Linked DNA regions of Homo sapiens. The protein of the gene in region 1 interacts with the protein of each later gene in a biochemical or structural test. Each region holds a gene or a part of one and is shown on either strand. Other genes may lie near its edges.

Region 1 (3,500 bases):
ACACATAATAGTCAGAAGAACTTAGAAGTTGTTCTGACAAAAGTCTGTAGGAAATTCTGTTATGAACAAAATGTTGTTATAAACAACAGCTACACACCATCCCCCAAAATAAAGAAAAATTCTTCTAGCACTCTTTGAACCTTAAACAGTGTTTTAGTAGGCCAACTCATTGTTTTTCTTCTCTCTGAAAAATTAAAAATGCTAACTGTTATGATGAGTTCCACAGAAAAAGACAATTTCCATGACTTCATTTCTTGACAAAGAACAGCTACCTCTCTTGCTTTCTGCCACATACAAGCAAACTCCCAGACATAAAACCTCCCCTCAGAGGAAGCAATATGGGACCACAAAAGTATCTTGAGGTCTGCCCTATCTGCCCACGGGAAGCCTCCCCCTCACTGTGAGCTGTGAGCACTGGCTGCCTGGGAGGAGCAAGGTGTGGGAGAAGAGATAGCGACTGTCCCCCCATGTGCTCGCCGACTGTACTGTCACAACCTCTCAGGGTGGCTTCTGCCCTGTCACCACTTGATCTGGATTCTCTCTCCAAAAATTTAAAAAAACAAGGCGTGCCTGTCTTTTATAATGCTCTGTTTTAAGAGAGAGAAATCTCCAGGGAGAGAACAGGACCCTAAAAGTCCAAGGCCTGGAATTCTTCCTTTCTCTCTTTCCATTTTAAACAGGAAGCATTCATGCTAAGAGAGTCCGGAGGGAGGGCTGGTTGTATGTTCATTTGAAGGCAAATAATGTTTGTGTGTTGCAAATGTCAGTGATTTATCCTAAGGGCTTAAAATGAGTGCAGAAAAACCACATGTTTCACTTCATGCAGAGAAATATCTTCAGTGGATTTTGAGAGAAAGTACAGGTTAAGAAAAATTTTTTGAGTGTATCGGATATCTCCAACATGAACCAAAAGGAAATGAAAATGAGCATGGTGAGGTGGAGGAGAGAGACTTAAAGAATTCTTATGATAAAAGATATACCGAAGGCTGGAAGTTTTCTAAATCAAAAATGAAATTCTAAAGAAAGGGAAAGGTGAAATCCAGAGCCTTTATTTCCCATGGCTAGAGTGACAGATTATCCATTTGTGCTCCATTTGTCATGGGCGATTTAAAATACAGCAAAGCAAACTGCACTGAATAATAGCAGCTGATGCTATAATAACTTGTACACAAACAATTTAATTTTTTATCTGAAAACTCTAACTAAATTACCCCAAGCTCAAGGATCTTTCATTATTATACATAGCCAAATTAAGACAAAAAAGTAGAGAGAATTCTATTGTTCATCCTTATAGATTTGTTCACAAGCTGCTTTCTACATGCACCGAGCTGGGAGCTTGTCAAATCTTCATTGATTTGAGCAACTTACAGAGCTGTTTTAACATCCACCTCCACAGATTACAGGGTGATTCTGACCCTCATTGACAGTGCTTGATTAACCACAGACACTGTATTCTCACAGCCCTGTCATTTCTTTCAAGTGTCCTAGCAGTGTGTCTGACATTGGGGAGCTTTCCCTTAATTATTGTTGTTGTTTTTCTTTTTTAAAAATTATAAAAGGGGGAGTGGCAAAAAAATGGGAAGGATCTGGGGATGGTGGTGGTGGTGAATGTGTGCACAGAAGGTTTATGAGATTTTAAGAGCTGCAAACAGAACTCATCTGTTTAACCCCAGGCTAGATAAAATGCAGTCATCTGCACATTGTTTAGAGGCACACTGCTTCTGTTATGGCAAACGGATCAGAAGATGCTTGTTTTCTTTAGTGAGAGATCCAGACAGGGCCACTTTCTGTTAGTGTCTATTCTTACCCTGGATGTTTCTGTGTGCCTTACCCATTACAAGGTACAACTTACAGCTGGTTTGGCATTTCCCTATTCTGCTACTGGACTGGTGCTACTTCCTGGCTTTGTGGTAGAGTTGATTACTTTATATCAAAGCTTTAGGTGTGGGCTGGGTGCAGTGGCTCACGCCTGTAATCTCAGTACTTTGGGATGCCGAGCCAGGCAGATCACCTAAGGTCAGGAGATTGAGACCAGCCTGGCCAACATAATGAAACCCATCTCTACAAAAAAAAATACAAAACTTAGTCAGGTGTAGTGGTGGGCACCTGTAGTTCCATCTACTCGGTAGGCTGAGGTGGGAGAATCGCTTGAACCCAGGAGGCAGAGGTTGCAGTGAGCTGAGATCGCACCATTGCACTCCAGCCTGGGTGACAGAATGAGACTCCCTCTCAAAAAAAAAATTAAAAAAAAAAAAAGAGCTCTAGGTGCTCTGGCTTGGGACTTTTTCTAAGGACTGTAGAGCATTTAGGGAGGGGAGGGACATATGAATCCACACCAAGATGTAACAGCAGCCAACCAGAGTTAGACCAAGATGACAGCCCGTTTAAAAGAGCACCTCACAGATTTAGAAAAGCGAGTGCAGTCCATGGAAACTTTATGACTCCAAATAACCTGAACATTTCTATCACCATGCCTAGGACAGACTTCAGCCCAGCCTGTCCTGGATATGGTGGTAGAAAAGGGGAGGGAACTAATGACCCCATCCTTAAGAGAGGCAAACTCACTGCCTTGTTTAGGAAACTAGTTTGGTTACTATAATAAAGGCCAACAGAAAAGGGTATAAACCAGATTGAAGTGTATTTTCCTCTCATGCACCAATGTGAATGGAAGCAATCCTGATTGACATGGTGGCTCCATGGCAACGGGGACCCAGGCTCTCACCTTCTTGTTGCTCTGCCTCCCATAGCACGTGGTTTTCACCTTGTGGCCTAAGATGGTTTTTCTGCTGGCCAACAGGAAGGAGAGAAGGGAAGAAGTTCCCTTCTCTTCTTTTTAAGGGCACGTATCACTTCTGCTCCCATCCCATTGGCCAGACCTATGCGGTGGCCACACCAAACTGCACAGGAGGCTGAGGAACATGTTCTCCAGCCGGACGGCCAGCTTAGGAGCTGCTAACATGTGTCTCTTCTTCTCTTTCCAGGGGAGGACCCGCAGATCCTGTAGACTATCTGCCAGCAGCACCTCGGGGGCTCTACAAGGAAAGGGAGCTTCCCTATTATCCAGGGGCTCATCCTATGCACCCTCCCAAAGGGAGCTATCCCCGCCCCACAGAGCTCAGGGTGGCAGATCTCCGGTATCCTCAGCACTACCCACCCCCGCCAGCTCCCCAGCACAAAGGACCCTTTCGACAAGACGTTCCGCCTTCCCCTCCCCAGCACCAAAGAATGCCAGCCTATCAGGAAACAGGCAGACCAGGGCCCCGTGGGGGCAGCCCAGACCAGTACCCTTACCGAACCCAGGATTCCCGGCAGAAGAACCCCATGACTGCAGCCGTATAGCTGAGTGCCACCGAGGCCAGCCCGGTCCAGAAAGGAAGGTGTCTACTCTACCTTTGCCCTTTCTAAACCTGAAGACCTCCTTGGTGTTAGGAATTCTCCATGTTACTGATAAGCTTTTTCTCACTGACATTGTAACGCATGACTGCTAATCAGAGAGAAAA
Region 2 (3,500 bases), on another chromosome or scaffold:
CCACCCGCCTCGGCCTCCCAAAGTGCTGGGATTACAGGCGTGAGGCACCGCGCCCGACCCCTGGACACATTTTGACTTAGAACATATTTTCGGTTTGTGTGAGACAGTGCATTAGTGCAGGATTGGAAAAGAGTGATCAGGAATTGATTGTTTTCAAGGATTGGTTCCTTCTGCTCAAGGAAGTCCCATTGTAAACATAAAAAAATGAATGAAACTGAAGAAGTTCAGTGACTTAGCTTTTTATTATCTTCTGTAGTACTTACCTTTTTGGAGAGGAGTTGGTTGGGATATTTTTCCATTTAAATTTTTTTTTTAAAGGGATCTTCTCTCCCGTAAGCCGGGATACTTAAGCTATATATGTAGTGGCTACAAATTAAGGTCTTCACTGTTTTCATTTTTAGCTGCTAGAATAAGTGAACATTACCTTAGATAGACTCTTCTAATTATGAAGATATCTAGATGTCTAGAAAATATCAAAATGCATGTGGTTTTTGCATTTCTAAAATACTTTTAAAACCAAATACTTTTTCTTTTTTTTTTTTTTCTGAGATGGAGTCTTGCTCTTTTGCCTAGGCTGGAGCGCAGTAGAATGATCTTGGCTCACTGCAACTTCCGCCTCTCAGGTTCAGGTGATTCTCCTGCCTCAACCTCCTGAGTAGCTGGGATTACAGGTGCGTGCCACCACACCCGGCTAGTTTTTGTGTTTTTAGTAGGGACAGGGTTTCACCATGTTGGCCAGGCTGGTCTCAAGCTCCTGACCTCAAGTGATCTGCCAGCCTCAGCCTCCCAAAGTGCTGGGATTACAGGCATGAGCCACCACACCTGGCCTCAAATACATTTTTTTAAGTATCCAGATATTAAATAAATAATACCATTATAGTAGTTGTTATGGTCATTTACTCTAGCATCAAATGTTAAAAGATCATTCTGAACACTTGTTTTGTTTATGCTGAGAGAAGGCCTACTCCAAAAAATGCAACCATCTTCGTATCTGCATGTGGATACAACCATGAATGGCCAAAGTTATTGCAGTGTTGAATAGACACTTATATAGCACTGTGTGGCAAGTACTGTTTGAAATGTTTTTCACGTGTTTATTCATTGTATTTATTTTGAGATAGGGTCTTGCTCTGTTGCACAGGGTGGAGTGCAGCTGCACAGACAAGGCTCACTGCAACCTCAGCCTCCTGCGCTCACGTGATCCTCATACATCAGCCTCTTAAGGAGCTGGGGCCACAGGCACGCACCACTGCTCCTGGCTAAATTTTTACAATTTTTTGTAAAGACAAGGTCTCACTATCTTGCTCAGACTGGTCTTGAACTCCTGGGCTCAAGTGATCCTCCCACATCAGCCTCCCAAAGTGCTGGGATTACAGGCATAAGCCACTGTGCAGGTCATCAAATGCTAATTGAATTTTCACAACAAAACCATTTATTGTCCCTAGTTTACAAGATTAAGTAAATGAGAAGCTAATTTTTCTCTGGCTATATACCTTGCAAGAGGCAGAGCTAAGACTTGAACCCAGCCAGAGTTCTTTAACTCCAGCACTAACATTTCAGCTGCTGCAACCAGGGAGCTTTTCAAGGATGATCACCACATTCTCTACATTCATCTGCTATAATCCTTATCAGAATCTACAGCCTGTATCATATTTTCCTTGTTGCTGTGAGTGGGTCAGCCAAATTCTCTTTAACTTGAAACCTTGGTTGCGTAGGGATTGCAACATCCTGGAAAGAATAGAATAAAATTTACTCAACTCAATTTTTTACTTGGTTCATAATGAAAACTATACTATTGCTTCAGTCAGATGTTTGCGAATAGCTGTGTGATCTCAAAATGTTTTCCTATGTGATCTATAGAAAATGGAATGATAGAGTATTAGGCTGTAAGGGCCTAAGAAACAAAGGAAAAAGAGAAGTGAACTGTTAGTTTAGTTGTAAAACCTAACTTTGGTGAATTGTAAAAATTTGTTATAATACAATATGATTCTTGCTTGTCCTGTCCTTGATGAAGTTGTGGACCTTTTGAAATAAGCTATTTCTCTGTTACTGCTGTTACTGTTTAGAAATCAAATTTAGTTTTTTCTTAAGATATACGTATTTTTGGAAGATAAACACAGTTTCAAAGTCTGCCTTGTTGGCTGGGTGCACTGGCTCATTGTTGTATTCCCAGCACTTTGGGAGGCCAAAGCAGGAGGATCACTTGAGGTCAGGAGTTCAAGACCAGCCTGGCAAATATGGTGAAACCCCGTCTCTACTAACAATACAAAAATTAGCTGGGCGTGGTGGTGGGTGCTTGTAATCCCAGCTACTGGGATTGGGAGGCTGAAGTAGAAGAATTGCTTGAACCTGGGAGGCGGAGGTTGCACTGAGTCGAGATCGTGCCACTTTACTCCAACCTGGGCGACAGAGTGAGACTCCGTCTTGAAAAAAAATGTCTGCCTTGTAAAAGTGAAATAGGATGAGAAAGTGCCTTTCTTATTAATTGGTGTAATGAATTAGAAATAAACTCTTTGAAGACACCTCTTGGTAAAAATAGTTACATTTACTGTTGATTTATGGTATGTTGGATATGTTTTTAAGTTTTCCGTGTAATAACTCAGTTCATTCTCATGAGTGAAATAGGTGCTTTTATTGTCTTTATAGATGGGAAACTGAGGTATAGGCAGGCTAGGTACATTATTATGGAGTTCGTAAGTAGTGGAGCTGAAGTCGCATCCCAGACAGTTTGGCTTCCGTGAGTTTACCAATCTCATGGTAAAGACTTTGTCAGACTATCAAAGTTTTGACAAATGAAATATTAGCAAAAGGCCAAAAGGGATTCTCTATTTTCATTTGAGTATCTTCACCTGAAAATAGTTGCCTGAATAAGTAGCCTGCATAGAAAGGTACATTTTAGAAATACTTGAGGCCAGAGAATGAAAAGCTTACATAAAATTGATTTCCGGTGGGGCCTTCAGTTACTCTCCATTCTACGAAGACCACAAATAGCATTCAGGCAAAGAGCATTTATTCCAACAATGGAGGAGCACTGGATTTGGTTCCTAAAACAAAATAAAGTTTGAAATCCTGTCTTTCCCATGTTGAAAACAAAGTTGGTACAAAACCCTTTAGCTTTTGCAAACCTCCTTTAAGACCCGATTTAAATGCTTCCCTCCTCATGAAGCTCTTCTGGATCCACTCCTTCCCATCACTAAGTTGAAAGTAAGATCCCCTTCTCTTTACTTCCATTAGACTTGGATTACAGCACTCTTTGTATCATGTATTTAATTCTGTTTTTTAATTACAGTTAACATTTATTTGTCTTCCTCTTGAGTGTATGCTTCTCTAGAGGAAGGTCTTTGATTCATTCTCCCCTGGCCTTAATTCATCCCACTTAATATGGAAAAAATTTAATAAATGCTGACTTGAATAAGTCCAACAAGGAGAATGGGAAGCTCATGTTTGCTTCCTGTCTTCTAAAAGACTACTTAAGATAACAGGGTAATCACAGAAAAGCA
Region 3 (3,500 bases), about 130 Mb from region 1:
ATATCATCCAGGTTTCTAACCTTTGAAGAGGTGAGCCTCCTATTAACTAGATAGGTTATGATTATTGCATGGTCAAAATGACATTTAACTCGGGTCTGAAAGAGACATGACCACTCCACTATATTATCTATCTGAATGTTGAGATTCTTCATTGTATCATCATTGTGTTAGTCAGCAGCATAGTCTCTGAGAATCAGCTGTGGTAAAGCAAAGTCCCTGAAGCTGAAAGCTGGAGCTGGACAGGAAGGCTCTCTCTGAGCTATGGGTTGGAACTGGTCCTTTGGCCTTGGCCAAGAGGAGTTTAAGGCATAGGAAGGACCTTTCCCAGGTGGCTAAGAAAAAAAGCAAAGAAAAGAAAGATGGTTCCTAGTACATGAAACACATCAAATGCCACAAGAAATTGAAGACAGATAAGGTCTTCTGGGCTGCAGGCTAGACTAGAGGGACAGGATAGTGGAACAGAGCCAGAGACAAACACAGGTTTAAATTTTGGTTCTGCCTCTGCTAGCTATTCAGTCTTAGAGACAATACTTAATTTCTCTGAACTTCAGTTTCATTACTTGTAAAATGGAAATAATACCTAAATATCATGATGTGGTGATAAGAATTAAACTTAATCCTTAATGTAAAGTACCTAATACCAAGTCTTCATCAGAGCAGACACTCAACTGAATGGTTGTCATTGTTGCTGTTTGTTGTTGTTGTTGTTAGAAGTCTAACATTTTTCTCTGTTAACTGCTAGAGGTCCCTCAACAAAACAAATTAGGATATTTTCCTCCAATGTCCAATGAGCTATCACTGAAGGACAGCACTCCACAGTGGGAGCCCTTAGATCCAATGCTGGAATTTCCTTTATGTAAGAACCTTCATTTCTCCACAATCAACTTTGATCAAGTTGCTATGTCTGGAACAAAGCTCTCAGATAATTGTTTATATACAGTCTCAAAGTCATCAGTCTAGGACATGAGAGGTTCAGCAGTGAGGATAAAGGAAGAACTTGGTCAAGCAGACTGGGGCTGCTGGGTAGTAGGATAAGACAGGTTAAGGCAGAAGAGAACTTTCAAAACGTCTACAGAGCAGACAGGATGTGGCTCAAAGGGTTACCAGAGTTGACCTCTTGCGGCTAGTCTCTATATTCTCCTTCAAACAAGCCTTGACCAAAGGATGGGCCCTCATTTCATAAGCCTGCTAGACAGGAGAGTTCAGGAAAAGAGCTGAATTCTTGGGAGCTCAGGACACAGACCCCTGGCTTCACTCTTCATTGCTGATGTTCCTCAAGAAGAGATAGGCATCCAAGTCACACCAATCCTGACAGGTATGTCCAGAAAGAACATTTTCTGTCTAGATACCTTATGTAACAACCACTAGAGTCCCACCTCAGAGAAACAAGGAAGAATTAAAGGCCCTAGGAGACTAACTTAGAACAATCACACTGTCTATAAGCCATGGCTCTGGGATTCATACCCATGGGATCCCCAAGCCTGGCAGAATGGAAAAGGACAAATATGGCAATGGCAGTACCATTGCTACCTTATAAACTTAAGGAGAACTGTAGGGAAATTAGACCTCAATGTTACCTGAGGGAATACAGAGATTTTCACCAACACCCTGAACTGCGAACCTTTCCAGAATGAGGGAGCTATCCAGATGCTGGTAGGGAGTGTGTATCACCTGCATTATGAAAAGGACTTAACATAAGTCCAACCCACCCCAAGGCAGCCCAGGGGGACTAACTGGAGCAATCATGCATATGATTATGATTAGCATCCTAAGCCAGAGATATGAGGGTGGTATGTAACAAAGAGGGGTTTAGAGATACACACTGACTTGATCCAGGTGGCAGGGATTACTGAGGACTGCAGAAGAGTCAAGACAAGATCTACAGTTAAGGATGAGGTCAAAAAAGGGAGCAGTTATACTCCCTCCTATTGCTCTACAGAGCAGAAAGAGAAGCCACTGGATATAAAGGATATGTGAGGCTTCTGACTCACGCCAGGGGCTTGTCACAAATGTGAGCTGCCAAAAGACCAGTGCTGACTACTGTGTAACAGATGGGAAAAGCTGAGAATTCAGAAACAGTCATCAGTCCCAGAGATCATGACTAGCCTAGATGTGATTAGGATACACATGTCCCAAGCCTGCCTGTGTTTGAGGCTGGTGATGTCCAGGCCTTCAGCAGCAATAAACAGGATCTATAAGAAAACATGATTGACAGAGTGCCCGCCCTGAAGGCAAGATCCAGAATATGGGGCCAGCAGATATTACATTAGTGGAAGTGACATCAGAAGCCATGAGAGGAGAGACTCACAGCCCATATACAATGAGGTTGGCAGTGGAAGTAGGAGAAGGTGGTAAGAGACAGTCACATGCTGTGAAAGGAAGAAACAGGCAATGGGCTGTACTAATTAAGAAATGGACACAGGCTGCCTGGACAAAGCATACACAGGGCAAGGGAAACATGAGTTTCTGGTTTCTGAAGTCTCTCCCTGGATTTGTTGTTTCCCCAGCCCAACCAGCATCCCTAACTTCCTTAACTATCCCACTATGTCTCTCTTCACACTTTGTATATCTTACCCTCTCCAGACAACCTCCCTTTCCCTCCCTCAGTGGCTTACACATACCCTCATCCCATGAGGACAGCCCCTACACCCAATGCTTATCATGCACAATGGTTGCCTTGACCATGCCCCCATCATGGTCGCTCACAGAAAACCCTTCCCATCCTCCCACCACCACCCCAAGTAACTCACACTGGTGCAGGCACCCTCTCCCTCTCCTCCCACACCGTCACTCACAATAACCCCGCACTTCGGATCAAAAGCGAAGGTGCCACAAGTGAGGAGGTGAGAGGCATTGGCAATGGCGAGAATCTGGACAAAATTGTGACATTCGTCCTGGGGGTCAGAGACGGTTAGAAAGAATCAGAAGCAGCAGGTACGAGGAAGGGTAAGGTAACGTCAGGACAGTTAGATGCAGCTTTGGGATCAGAGATGATGGGTGATGGCATGGTGTTAGAGTCTCTGCCTGGGCCCATTGGTATGGAAGCATTACAGGGGACTGAGAGTCAGGGCTGGGCCAAGGTCTCAACTGACACTCAAGACAGGGCTCAGATTTACACCTACCTCTTTCTTGCCTTTCTTCCTACAGTTCTGTCTGTGAGCCTCAGGAACCATCCAGTCAATCTGAGAAAGGAGAAGTGATCATTTCACCCAGATTCCCCTAACATCAAACTCCCTCGATGTTAGAGGAGATTAAACTGTTCTATAACCTCCATCAATTTGGGAACTTCAAAAGTCCCCCTAGAGCATTGTTTTTCAAATGGAGGTCCCCACCCATTAATGAGTAATAAAATCAATTCTGAAATCATGACCAACATTATTTTTAATGAAATAGAATATATCAAAATGTATCACATATAAGAGGTAGATATTGTTTCAAGAAAGGTTTCTTTCAGTACATAATTGTGTACCACAATACACAGTATACACTGAGCATCCCTT
Region 4 (3,500 bases), on another chromosome or scaffold:
TTTCTTGGTCCTGTCTGAGGATAGGAGGAAAGATAATAGGACTCAGTCATTGGAGAAGAATTTGGTTTCCTGTTGAGAAAGTAAAGGGGACTTATTTGTCCATCAGCATTTCCTGGATTAGGTGCTGTGGGCATGGAACAAGAGAAGGCACAAAGCCTGCTTGGGAAGAGTTGGCCATTTAGGGGAGAGGACGAGATGCCAACTAGGTTGGTAAAAGAGGGCTGCTGGGGCCATAGTGGTGCCAATTTACAAATGCAAATCCACTGGACCAGAGACAGTTAGGCCAAGAGAGCACTTAGAGATAATGACTCTTACCCTTCATTTTACAGAAGTGGAAACTAAGGTCAGAAAGTGAGTGGATATGAGCAAGATCACCTGAATGTGTGAATAAAGACCAGGGCACAAACACCCAGGTTGTCCGTGGCTAGGGATCCACCATATGTTAAGGTTTTGTTTAGTGTATTTCTGTTGAGGGGATGACAGAATGTTCCTTGGGTACCCAGTGTGGAAGGTGGATGTAGAACACAGGCAGCTGAATGCCATGGGTTAAAAGCCATCATGGCCAAATATGGACAGGTAGAAAGCATCCATGATTCCTCTTTGGACCCTTAGTTGGATCAAGAAGATTGTCTCTCTGGCTGAAACAAAACGATCGTTAAAAAGAAATGAGAATTGGGGAAATTTGAACATGGGCTCAGTATTCGCAGATATTGAGGGATAATTGTTAAATGTTAAAGGGTGATAATGGTATTGTGATTCTGTTAAAGAGGCACATATTTATATATTTGTGGATAAGATGACACAATGTCACTTTGCTTTAAGATAACCTAGCGGTAGGGGAGTGGTTGTGGAATCAGGTTGAGGCCTGGTGAAACAAGTGTGGCCTTGATTTGATACTTGGTGAAGCTGAGTGATGGGTACATGGACATTTATTAGACTATTCTCTCTCTTTTTGTGTATGTTTGAAATTTTCCATCATATAAATTGAAGGAAAAGATATCATGTTCCCCAAAGTACTGCAGGACTTTTGATAAATCCATGGTGGTTTCCCATGTGTGTACTTCACACATAGAAGGTCAGGGAGCCAGAAGTGGGTTTGTGTCTTAGTGAAGGAGCTAGTGCTGGTTATTTAACATCTCTGAGTTTCAGTTTCTCCATCTGTAAAATAAGAATAGTAATAATATCTTACATGTCAGTGTGGTGAGGATAAAATGAATTTAGTAGGTAGAATGCTCAGCTCACGGCCTAGCATGAAATTGAGGCTTAATATTTGTTTCCTTCTTCCATTTTCTTCTCAGGACTGGGATGCACATGTTGACTAAAACCACATTTTTCCATGTTGATAGCTTCTGGAGTCAAATCCTGCTGAGATAAAGTATTAGTTCTAGTGCAAGGATGGAGAGAACCTCTTAAGATTCACTCCTGCCAGGCACGGTGGCTCATGCCTATAATCCTAGCACTTTGGGAGGCAGAGGCAGGCAGATCACAAGGTCAAGAGATCGAGACCATCCTGGCCAACATGATGAAACCCCGTCTCTACTAAAATACAAAAAATTAGCCAGGCGTGGTGGCACGCGCCTGTAGTCCCAGCTACTCTGGAGGCTGAGGCAGGAGAATTGCTTGAACCCGGAAGGCGGAGGTTGCAGTGAGCCGAAATCGTACCACTGCACTCCAGCCTGGGCGACAGAGTGAGACTCCGTCTCAAAACAACAACAACAACAACAACAAAAACCACCACCACAACAAAACATTCACGTCTTTGGCTTTGACCAGTCTTCCCAGAAATCCTGGATCTCAGGACCTTAAACCTATCAGAAAATGGTCTAGGTTATCCACAGTGAGGTTCATTCTGATCACAGACAGCTACAGGAGCCAATCTGCTTTCCCAGTTGAGAAATGTGAAAACCAGGGAGGCTGAACTTTTTTAAACTAAATAAAATTCCGCTTGCAGAATGCCCTCATACCCTTGCTATCTGGAAGATTGAGCGTATCCTTACAAAGTTAATGACATGTGCTTATTGCAAAGTTAATGGCATAGAACTGCATCTTCTATTTATCTAGCTCTTTAAGTTTTAAAGAATTCTAACCAACTTTATATACCATGCAAATTGTGTTTCTCTCTCTACATACACCCACACATATATATATAATGTAGTTAGCCTGACTTGTTTTTTATTTTCTCTATCTGTACGGTTGTGAAAGTAACCTAAGACATAAGGAATTGATATCTGGAGAGCATTTTGATATACTTGGATGAAGTACTTTTGGTGTATTTGGAAGTAGCTATCATGATCTGTTTACTTAAATTCATGGCTGCAATCATCACCTCTTCTCTAGTGTGCATTCTACTTGCTCACTTCTTTTTGAATACATCTTATAATTCTTGCATTAGTGAAATCTACTCTTCTTGATAATAATACCTTATGGTTCTTTGGCACTGTTGGTTTTAAAAATATTTTTGCATTCATTATCTCATTTAATCCTCACAACAGTGTTGTGAACTAAGCAGGGCACATATTATTTCTATTTTACAGGTATATTTCATTGACTTTTCAATGTTGGAAGGTGCCTTTAAGATCATGGAGCCCGACTCCCTCTTTTTCACTCGTGAAAAGTCTGGGTCTCAAAGAGGATAAGAGAGCTGTCTGGTTTCAAAGTGCCCATCAGTGACAAAATCAGGATGAGAATTCTTGTGACCTTTCAGTCTGTAATGCTGGTGCAACCCTCACTTAAGCAAATTGCCTATTCTACTTGACTTAGATCTGTCCTAACCACCTGCAGCCAGGAACACCTGAAGGAGCTGGTTAGAAATGCAGATTCCTGGGCCACACCCCAGTCTGAGTAAATCAGACTCACAATGGGAGGCTCAGAAATCTGCATTTAAAACTCACTGGAGTTATTTTTCTGTACTGGGATGTGTGAAAGCTACCAGCTCATTGGAGTTAAGCTCTGTGGATCTGAGCCCCGTTTTATGCTGTGGTCTTGAGGTCTATGGCCACCATCATGAATTCCTCAGGGTCCTTGACTGGCTTTATCACCACATGTTGAACGCTCATTGCTCAGTGATATGTCTGGGATGGGTTTTCTTTCTTTCCAAAATTATTAGTTAGACTCTGCTTTGAGTCTAGCATTGCATTAGAAGCTGGGGTGAATGTTTAAGGGGCTGCTAGCAGAAAAGACTCAAGGGTGGCTAAGAGTGAAGGATATGCCCAGATGGGCAAGAGAGAAGGCTGGGCTGACCAACGGCACCGCCATTTTGGACACAGCAATTTGGGTGGCTGTTTGGATGATTCATGCTGCTTCTCTGCTCATGCTAAGTGTGAGTACACATCTGTGGGTGGTGGCCCTTGAGAACAGTGTTTGTTCCTCCTTTAGGGTGACAGAATGTGCCAGAGCCCATGCTTAGTGCTTTTGTACATTGCCTTTTTTAATCCTAAAAATGTCTCTATGAGGCAAGGAGTAAATGCAATTATCCCAATTTGAAAATGTGGAAATTAAAG

What was found. The genes of interacting proteins can lie anywhere in the genome.
Region 2: the proteins of PARD3B (region 1) and ABCA1 interact in a test that uses a peptide from one of them, tested with the Homo sapiens proteins (one large-scale study listed by IntAct).
Region 3: the proteins of PARD3B (region 1) and SEMA4F interact in a test that uses a peptide from one of them, tested with the Homo sapiens proteins (one large-scale study listed by IntAct).
Region 4: the proteins of PARD3B (region 1) and CBY2 interact in a test that uses a peptide from one of them, tested with the Homo sapiens proteins (one large-scale study listed by IntAct).

Annotation. Positions count from the first base shown.
Region 1 is NC_000002.12:205,612,475-205,615,974, forward strand, and holds part of PARD3B (partitioning defective 3 homolog B), read left to right. Parts: intron 1-2,981; coding exon 2,982-3,339; 3' UTR 3,340-3,500. UniProt on the Homo sapiens protein: Putative adapter protein involved in asymmetrical cell division and cell polarization processes. May play a role in the formation of epithelial tight junctions.
Region 2 is NC_000009.12:104,921,656-104,925,155, reverse strand, and holds part of ABCA1 (phospholipid-transporting ATPase ABCA1), read left to right. Parts: intron 1-2,613; exon of another isoform or gene 2,614-3,044; intron 3,045-3,500. UniProt on the Homo sapiens protein: Catalyzes the translocation of specific phospholipids from the cytoplasmic to the extracellular/lumenal leaflet of membrane coupled to the hydrolysis of ATP.
Region 3 is NC_000002.12:74,657,247-74,660,746, reverse strand, and holds part of SEMA4F (semaphorin-4F isoform 1 precursor), read right to left. Parts: intron 3,183-3,500; coding exon 3,123-3,182; intron 2,895-3,122; coding exon 2,796-2,894; intron 1-2,795. UniProt on the Homo sapiens protein: Probable cell surface receptor that regulates oligodendroglial precursor cell migration. Might also regulate differentiation of oligodendroglial precursor cells. Has growth cone collapse activity against retinal ganglion-cell axons.
Region 4 is NC_000013.11:45,708,820-45,712,319, forward strand, and holds part of CBY2 (protein chibby homolog 2), read left to right. Parts: intron 1-3,500.